Regions from separate parts of the Homo sapiens genome. Here all the other regions are linked to region 2. Evidence: fine-mapped expression QTL. A gene starts in region 2. Each other region holds a variant in brackets. All regions are shown on one strand. Distances are between the middles of the regions. Region 1 has its middle 31 kb from the start of CLEC18C. Region 2 holds the start of AARS1 (alanyl-tRNA synthetase 1). Region 3 overlaps DDX19A-DT (DDX19A divergent transcript).

The links.
Region 1: its variant is fine-mapped to the expression of AARS1 in cerebellum (GTEx, PIP 0.98).
Region 3: its variant is fine-mapped to the expression of AARS1 in whole blood (INTERVAL, PIP 0.98).

What each region holds. Positions count from the first base shown.
Region 1 is chr16:70,203,247-70,206,002 of GRCh38, reverse strand. No RefSeq gene overlaps it. Among named protein-coding and RNA genes, the nearest start is that of CLEC18C, 31 kb to the right of the region's middle. RefSeq lists a silencer at 1,626-1,791. The variant C/T (reference allele first, on the strand shown) is at 1,146.
Region 2 is chr16:70,287,909-70,290,664 of GRCh38, reverse strand. It overlaps AARS1 (alanyl-tRNA synthetase 1), which reads left to right and starts at 1,159. Exons shown (of 21, transcript NM_001605.3): 1 at 1,159-1,244. It also overlaps a transcript of DDX19B not described here. RefSeq lists a silencer at 1,814-1,943.
Region 3 is chr16:70,337,287-70,340,042 of GRCh38, reverse strand. The region is part of intron 2 of DDX19A-DT (DDX19A divergent transcript); the gene reads left to right. Among named protein-coding and RNA genes, the nearest start is that of DDX19A-DT, 8.1 kb to the left of the region's middle. The variant G/A (reference allele first, on the strand shown) is at 1,607.

The DNA.
Region 1 (2,756 bases), 85 kb after region 2:
CAAATTGTAGGTAGCCTGTTTTTTTTTTTTTTTTTTTTTTAATTTTCTTTTTATTGATAATTCTTGGGTGTTTCTCACAGAGGGGGATTTGGCAGGGTCATGGGACAATAGTGGAGGGAAGGTCAGCAGATAAACAAGTGAACAAAGGTCTCTGGTTTTCCTAGGCAGAGGACCCTGCGGCCTTCCGCAGTGTTTGTGTCCCTGATTACTTGAGATTAGGGATTGGTGATGACTCTTAACGAGCATGCTGCCTTCAAGCATCTGTTTAACAAAGCACATCTTGCACCGCCCTTAATCCATTTAACCCTGAGTGGACACAGCACATGTTTCAGAGAGCACAGGGTTGGGGGTAAGGTCACAGATCAACAGGATCCCAAGGCAGAAGAATTTTTCTTAGTGCAGAACAAAATGAAAAGTCTCCCATGTCTACTTCTTTCTACACAGACACGGCAACCATCCGATTTCTCAATCTTTTCCCCACCTTTCCCGCCTTTCTATTCCACAAAGCCGCCATTGTCATCCTGGCCCGTTCTCAATGAGCTGTTGGGCACACCTCCCAGACGGGGTGGTGGCCAGGCAGGGGGGCTCCTCACTTCCCAGTAGGGGCGGCCGGGCAGAGGCACCCCTCACCTCCCGGACGGGGCGGCTGGCCGGGCGGGGGGGGCTGACCCCCCCCACCTCCCTCCTGGACGGGGCGGCTGGCCGGGCAGAGGGGCTCCTCACTTCCCAATAGGGGCGGCCGGGCAGAGGCACCCCTCACCTCCCAGACGGGGCAGCTGGCCGGGCAGGGGGCTGACCCCCCCACCTCCCTCCCAGACTGGGCAGCTGGCCGGGCAAAGGGGCTCCTCACTTCCCAGTAGGGGCAGCCGGGCAGAGGCGCCCCTCACCTCCCAGACGGGGCAGCTGGCCGGGCGGAGGGCTGACCCCCCCACCTCCCTCCCGGACGGGGCGGCTGGCCGGGCAGAGGGGCTCCTCACTTCCCAGTAGGGGCAGCCGGGCAGAGGCGCCCCTCACCTCCCAGACGGGGCAGCTGGCCGGGTGGAGGGCTGACCCCCCCACCTCCCTCCCGGACGGGGCGGCTGGCCAGGCTGAGGGGCTCCTCACTTCCCAGTAGGGGTGGCCGGGCAGAGGTGCCCCTCACCTCC[C/T]GGACGGGGCGGCTGGCCGGGCGGGGGGCTGACCCCCGACCTCCCTCCCGGATGGGGCAGCTGGCCAGGCAGGGGCTGACCACCCCCACCTCCCTCCCGGACGGGGTGGCTGCCGGGCAGAGACGCTCCTCACTTCCCAGATGGGGTGGCTGCCGGGCGGAGAGGCTCCTCACTTCTCAGACGGGGCAGCTGCCGGGCGGAGGGCCTCCTCACTTCTCAGACGGGGTGGTTGCCAGGCAGAGGGTCTCCTCACTTCTCAGACGGGGCGGCTGGGCAGAGACGCTCCTCACCTCCCAGACGGGGTCTCGGCCGGGCAGAGGCACTCCTCACATCCCAGATGGGGCGGCGGGGCAGAGGCGCTCCCCACATCTCAGACGATGGGCAGCCGGGCAGAGACGCTCCTCACTTCCTAGATGTGATGGCGGCTGGGAAGAGGCGCTCCTCACTTCCTAGATGGGATGGCTGCCGGGCGCAGACGCTCCTCACTTTCCAGACTGGGCAGCCAGGCAGAGAGGCTCCTCACATCCCAGACGATGGGCGGCCAGGCAGAGACGCTCCTCACTTCCCAGACGGGGTGGCGGCCGGGCAGAGGCTGCAATCTCGGCACCGTGGGAGGCCAAGGCAGGCGGCTGGGAGGTGTAGGTTGTAGCGAGCCGCGATCACGCCACTGCACTCCAGTCTGGGCACCATTGAGCACTGAGTGAACGAGACTCCGTCTGCAATCCTGGCACCTCGGGAGGCCAAGGCTGGCGGATCACTCGCGGTTAGGGGCTGGAGACCGGCCCGGCCAACACAGCGAAACCCCGTCTCCACCAAGACCAGTCAGGTGTGGCGGCGCGTGCCTGCAATCGCAGGCACTCGGCAGGCTGAGGCAGGAGAATCAGGCACGGAGGTTGCAGTGAGCCGAGATGGCAGCAGTACAGTCCAGCTTCGGCTCCGCATGAGAGGGAGACCGTGGGGAGAGTGAGAGGGAGAGTGAGAGGGAGAGGGAGAGGGAGAGGGAGAGGGAGAGGGAGACGGAGAGGGAGAGGGAGAGGGAGAGGGAGAGGGAGAGGGAGAGGGAGAGGGAGAGGGAGAGGGAGACGGAGAGGGAGAGGGAGAGGGAGACGGAGAGGGAGAGGGAGAGGCCCCCTTACATTTTTGCACGCAAGGCAAGTGCTTCACTGGAGTGTCTTCTTATTCCCCTTCCACCCTCTCCTCTTCCACCCTCCGTGGATGATAATCTCAAGACTCCTCCCTTAGCTACTCAGGAGGCCGAGGCAGAAAAATGACTGAAACCCAAGAGGCAGAGGTTGAGTAAGCTGAGAACAGGTCATTGCACTCAAGCCTGGGCAATAAGAAGAAATCTGTGGGTGGAACAAAAGAAAAAAATCAAAAAACAAAACAAAACCCACACTCCAAAAACAAACTAACAAAGAATAAATAAATAATATAAAAATAAAATAAATACTGCAGTCCTTATGTTATTGCTTTGTTTCAATATCTGGTATGATTGCCTGAGGGACCTGAGGTTTTTAATTGTAGGGTTTTTTTTTAGTCTTTAGAAGTGGTTGGTTATGTAAAATATTATTATTATTTTTTGAGACTGGGTTTTGCTCTGTCACCCAGGCT
Region 2 (2,756 bases):
TGCAGTGTCACGATCAGGGCTCACTGCAGCCTCAACTTCCTAGGCTCAAGTGATCCTCCCACTTCAACCTCCCAAGTAGCTGGGACTACAAGCATGCGCCACTATGCCTGGCTAATTTTTATTTTTTATTTTTTTTTTTGAGACGGAGTCTTGCTCCGTAGCCAGGCTGGAGTGCAGTGGCGCCATCTCGGCTCACCGCAACTTCCGCCTCCCGAGGTCAAGGGATTCCCTTGCCTCAGCCTCCCGAGTGGCTGGGACTACAGATGCGCGCCCGGCTAATTTTGTGTTTTTAGTAGAGACGGGGTTTCACCATGTTGGCCAGGATGCTCTCGGTCTCCTGACCTCGTCATCCGTTGGCCTCAGCCTCCCAAAGTGCTAGGATTACAGGTGTGGGCCACCGCGCCCGGCCTTTTAAAAAATTTTTCGTAGAGACAGGGTCTAGTTATGTTGACCAGGCTGGTCTCCAACTCCTGGGTTCAGGTGATCTTCCCACCTTGGCCTCCCAAAGTGTTGCAATTATAGGCGTGAGCCACCGCACCTGGCATGTATATATGTATATGTATATATATATATTCACCCTCCTCCCCCAGGCCTATAAATATTAACTTTTTTTTTTCCAAAGGCAAATCGAGGACCAGATGCTGATCCAATCGTACCTGAACTACTGATGTTATTTCTTCCACACCAAATTCAAGGTCTCCCCCGGACAAGTGTAACCATGGGCACAATGTCAGACTCTTTGAGGGCTGTGTATCACTCAGCAACTAAAATAAACAACTATAGCAAGATATGTAACCTCTACCAAACACGTTACCGTCTCCCCTTTTTAACTATGTCAATTGTGGTGTTAGGACTTTGCCTATGGAAACCAAAATGTCGACCTCCGGGAGCCGGGGGCGGGGGGGGGCGGGGGGGGCGGGGGGGGGTCTAACTCGATCATGTGACGCACCCCATCCCACCTTTTCTCGCAGTTGCATCAGCCAAGTTAGAGCCGCCTTCCCAGGAATCCACTAATGAACGGATTCGTCCTCAGTTTGACTGGCATGTTGGTTGACCAATAATATCTCATGAGGTAAGGCGCGGCGGGGCACTTTCCGTCGGCGCGCTCTGATTGGACGGAGCGTGGCGGGTTGTGGTAGGTCGTGGTCTGAGGCCGGTACAGCTGCGCGTCTGCGGGAATAGGTGCAGCGGGCCCTTGGCGGGGGACTCTGAGGGAGGAGCTGGGGACGGCGACCCTAGGAGAGGTAGGCCGCCCTCGGAGAGCTCTGCGGTGCTAGGAGAGCGGCTGGGCCCGCAGACTGGGGGGAAAGCTCCGCAGCCGCAGTGGGCCCCAGGATCAGGCCCCGCGTGGCCTGGAGAAGCCCAGTCTGGGCTGGAGCGGGAGCTGGACAGTGTGGCCTTGCGTTCGCCCCCGGGAGCGCTGCGAGTGTCGCGGCCTCGGGTGGATTTGCTGAGCACCAATACCTCACGGTTGCCAACCTGGGGTTTTAGCTCCCTTGGTTTTAATCCCCTAGGGGCGGGTGGGGGCACGGGAGGAAGGATGGGCCAGCTGGGTGCAATCCTGCTGTAAGCCAGCCATTCCTTGATTTCTTAAAATTAACTAAACAGCTGATGCCGGTCCAGGCGCACCGAGACCGTCATCTTAAGCTGTTCTGTAAAACAGTTTGTATTTCTCGGTGTGCTTTGAAGCATGTGAGTTAATTCCGAACTTGGTGTTAAAGGATTAGTATACCTGATCACGAAATACGTATTTAGCAGCCACTGTACTAGATGCTGAGGATGTGCTGTAATAGCCCAGGGCCAGGCGCGGAGGCTCACGCCTGTAATCCCAGCGCTTTGGGAGGTCGAGGCGGGCGGATCACCTGAGGTCAGGGGTTCGAGACTAGCCTGGCCAACATGGTGAAACCCCGTCTTTACTAAAAATACAAAAATTAGCCGAGCGTGGCGGCGCGCGCCTGTACTCTCAGCCACTCCGGAGGCTGAGGCATGAGAATCGCTTGAACCCGGCAGGCGGAGGTTGCAGTGAGCTGAGATCACACCATTGCACTCCAGCCTGGGTGACAGAGGGAGACTCCGTTTCAAAAAAAAAAAAAAAAAAAGAGCCCAGAACAGTCGTTGCTGCTGGGATGGAACTGACAGCCTGATGGGGGAGGCGCACATTAAACAATCCATGAAGCGCGTATGGAAATTATGAAGGGAAACACTTGAGGCTGTGAGACAGTAAAAGAGGGGGAGCCTTATCAAGAAGGGGAAGGCGGCCGGGCGCGGTGGCTCACGCCTGTAATCCCAGCACTTGGGGAGGCCGAGGTGGGCAGATCACGAGGTCAGGAGATTGAGACCATCCTGGCTAACACGGTGAAACCCCATCTCTACCAAATATACAAAAATAGCCGGGCGTGGTGACTGGCGCCCGTAGTCCCAGTAGTCCCAGCTACTCGGGAGGCTGAGGCAGGAGAATGGCGTGAACCCGGGAGGCGGAGCTTGCAGTGAGCTGAGATCGCGCCACTGCACTCCAGCCTGCGCAACAGAGCGAGACTCCGTCTCAAAAAAAAAAAAAAAAAAAAAAGAAGAAGGGGAAGGCTGTCTTAAATAAGTGTCTTGGCCGGGCGCGGTAGCTCACCCCTGTAATCCCAGCACTTTGGGAGGCCGAGGCGGGCAGATCGCCTGAGGTCAGGAGGTCGAGACCAGCCTGACCAACATGGAGAAACCCCGTCTCTACTAAAAATACAAAATTAGCTAGGTGTGGTGGCACATGC
Region 3 (2,756 bases), 49 kb before region 2:
CCAGGAAGCAAAGTGTGCGTCACTTTCCTCCCCAGAAGAGTGGCCAGAGAAAGAGACTGTTGATAGAGTTAAATGCTGCTGAGAAGGCAAATATAACAGGGATTAAAATGTAGCTTTTAAGCTGAGTGTGGTTGCATGCATCTGTAGCCACAGCTACTAGGGAGGCTGAGGCAGGAGGATCACTTGAGCTTGGAGTTCAAGGCTGCAGTAAGCTGTGACTATGCCACTGCACTCCAGCCTGGGCAACAAAGTGAGACCCCCCCCATCTAAAAAAAAAGTGGTTTTCAGATTTCGGACCTGTAAGTCATCAGTGTCTTTCATGAAGGCTATTTCAGGGGAGTGATGGAGCAAAAGTCAAGACTGCAGAGGGATGAGGAATGAGACTCTGCATACAAGCAACCTTACAAGACTTTCTGCCATTAGGAGACAGGCTGAAAGATGAGGAATAGAGGGTTGAATTGTAAAGAGCGGTCAAGTATGAACATGTTAAAATATCAATGAGAAAGAGCTGATGGGGTGGGAGAGGTAGCAAATATAAGGGGATAGTTGACAGAGCAAGTTCTTAAAAGCCAGGAGAGGGAAGTTGGTGGATTGGCAGAAAAATGTACATATTTACATATATATATATATATATATATATATATATATATTTTTTTTTTTTTTTTAAGGCAGGGTCTCATTTTGTTACCCAAGCTGGAGTGCAATGGTGCAGTCATGGCTTACTGCAGCCTCAAACTCCTGGGATCAAGTGATCCTCCTGCCTCAGCCTCCAAAGTAGCTGGGACTACAGGCATGAGCCACCATGCCTGGCTAATTTTTAATTTTTTTTTGTAAAGATGAGGTCTCCCTGTGTCGCCCAGGCTGGTGTCAGACTCCTGGGCTCAAGGGATCCTCCTGCCTTGGCCTCCCGAGGTTGCTGAGATTAGGTGTGAGTAATTTCACTCAGCTGAGAAATTTAGATAACAGGGATACATGTCTCATTGGAACAGGAGGGAGAGGGAAGGACCGGTGCTCATGGAGGAAGTTCTGGTGGCAGAAGGTTGAGGGAGTTTCTGTATGTTAGCCATTTTCTTAGAGTAAGGAGCTTATTTGCTGACACCTGAGGGGGATGATAGGGTTGGAATTATGAGGTGAGTGAAAGTCTTGAAATAGTCAGTGAAGTGTGGGGGAGTTAAGCAGAACGGTCCATGAGACTAGAGGTACTGCACCTTTTTCTGAAGTTGTCCCTTCCATTGATGTTAAATATAAAGTCAGAGTTTTTCGAAGGTAGGGAAAGTTAAAAAAAAATCAAATGAATAAAATATTTAATTTGTTCCTCTGGCATAATCCTACTTGCTATAGAAATTAACAAACCTGGCCAGGCATGGTGGCTCACACTTGTAATCCCAGCACTTTGGGAGGCCGAGGTGAGTTGCTCGCTTGAGGCCAGGAGTTCGAGACCGGTCTGGCCAACATGGTGAAACCCCGTCCCTACTAAAAATACAAAAATTAGCCGTGTATGGTGGCTCACGCCTATACACGGCAGGCGGATCACCTGAGGTCAGAAGTTCAAGACCTTGGCCAACATGGTGAAACCCCATCTCTACTAAAAATACAAAAATTACCC[G/A]GGCATGGTGGCACCTGTGGTCCAGTAACTCAGGAGGCTGAGGCACAAGAATTGCTTGAGCCTGGGAGGCAGAGGTTGCAGAGAGCTGAGATGGCGCCACTGCACTACAGCCTGGGCAACAGAGCAAGACTCCATCTCAACAACAAGAAAAATATAAAGTGCTTGACACCAAACTTGAGATATTTCAAGAAAACTTCAACCAGTATGACCATGAGCACCTCCACCACGCCGGTTCAGAATGACTGTAGAGCTCAGCCATGGGCAATCCCAATGCACAGAATGTTAAACTTTACAACATTAGTCTTGTTAAAACAAAAATACCCAAATACCAGCAATCAAAAACATGCTGCTGTTTCTCCTACCTTCTTTTTCAGGAGATGGGGTCTTGCTCTGTTGCCCAGGTTGGAGTGCAGTGGCATGGATCATGTCTCACTGCAGCCTCAACCCCCCAGGCTCAGGCGATCCTCCCACCTCAGTCTCCTGGGTAGCTGGGACTATAGGCATGCGTCAGCATACTTGGCTAATTTTTTTATAATTTTTTATTTTTTATAGATGGGGTCTCACTATGTTGCCCAGGCTGTTCTCAAACCCTTGGCCTCGAGCAGTCCATCTGCCCTAGCCTCTCAAAGTGCTGGGATTACAGGAGTGAGCCACTGTGCCTGGCTTAATTTTCTTTTTTAAACTTTTTAAGAAACAAGATATCGCTGTTTGCCCAGAATGATCTGGAACTCCTGGCTTCCAGTGATCCTCCTGCCTCAGCCTCCCAAGTAGCTGGGATTATAGGCGTGACACTCTGCACCCAGCTCTTTCCTTCTTATACTCATTAATGATTTCTTGGTAATATGAAAACTTCATAATTAAAGTTCAATTAACCTGAATTATTATTAATTAATCTTCATGTTAATCCTCAATTCAGGTTAATCTTCAATTAAAAGAATATATCAACAATTAGTTCTTATGCATACAGCCAATGAATGACACTCAAGAAAAATAATAAAATGCATTATTTATAGATAATGAATATATCCAGAATTTTCCATTGGGCCAAACATTCCTTTTCCCAAGTTTCTCTGTTCTAGAGCAGTTTATCATTTCTTTTTTCTTTTTTTTTTTTTGAGACGGAGTCTCACTCTGTCGCCCAGGCTGGAGT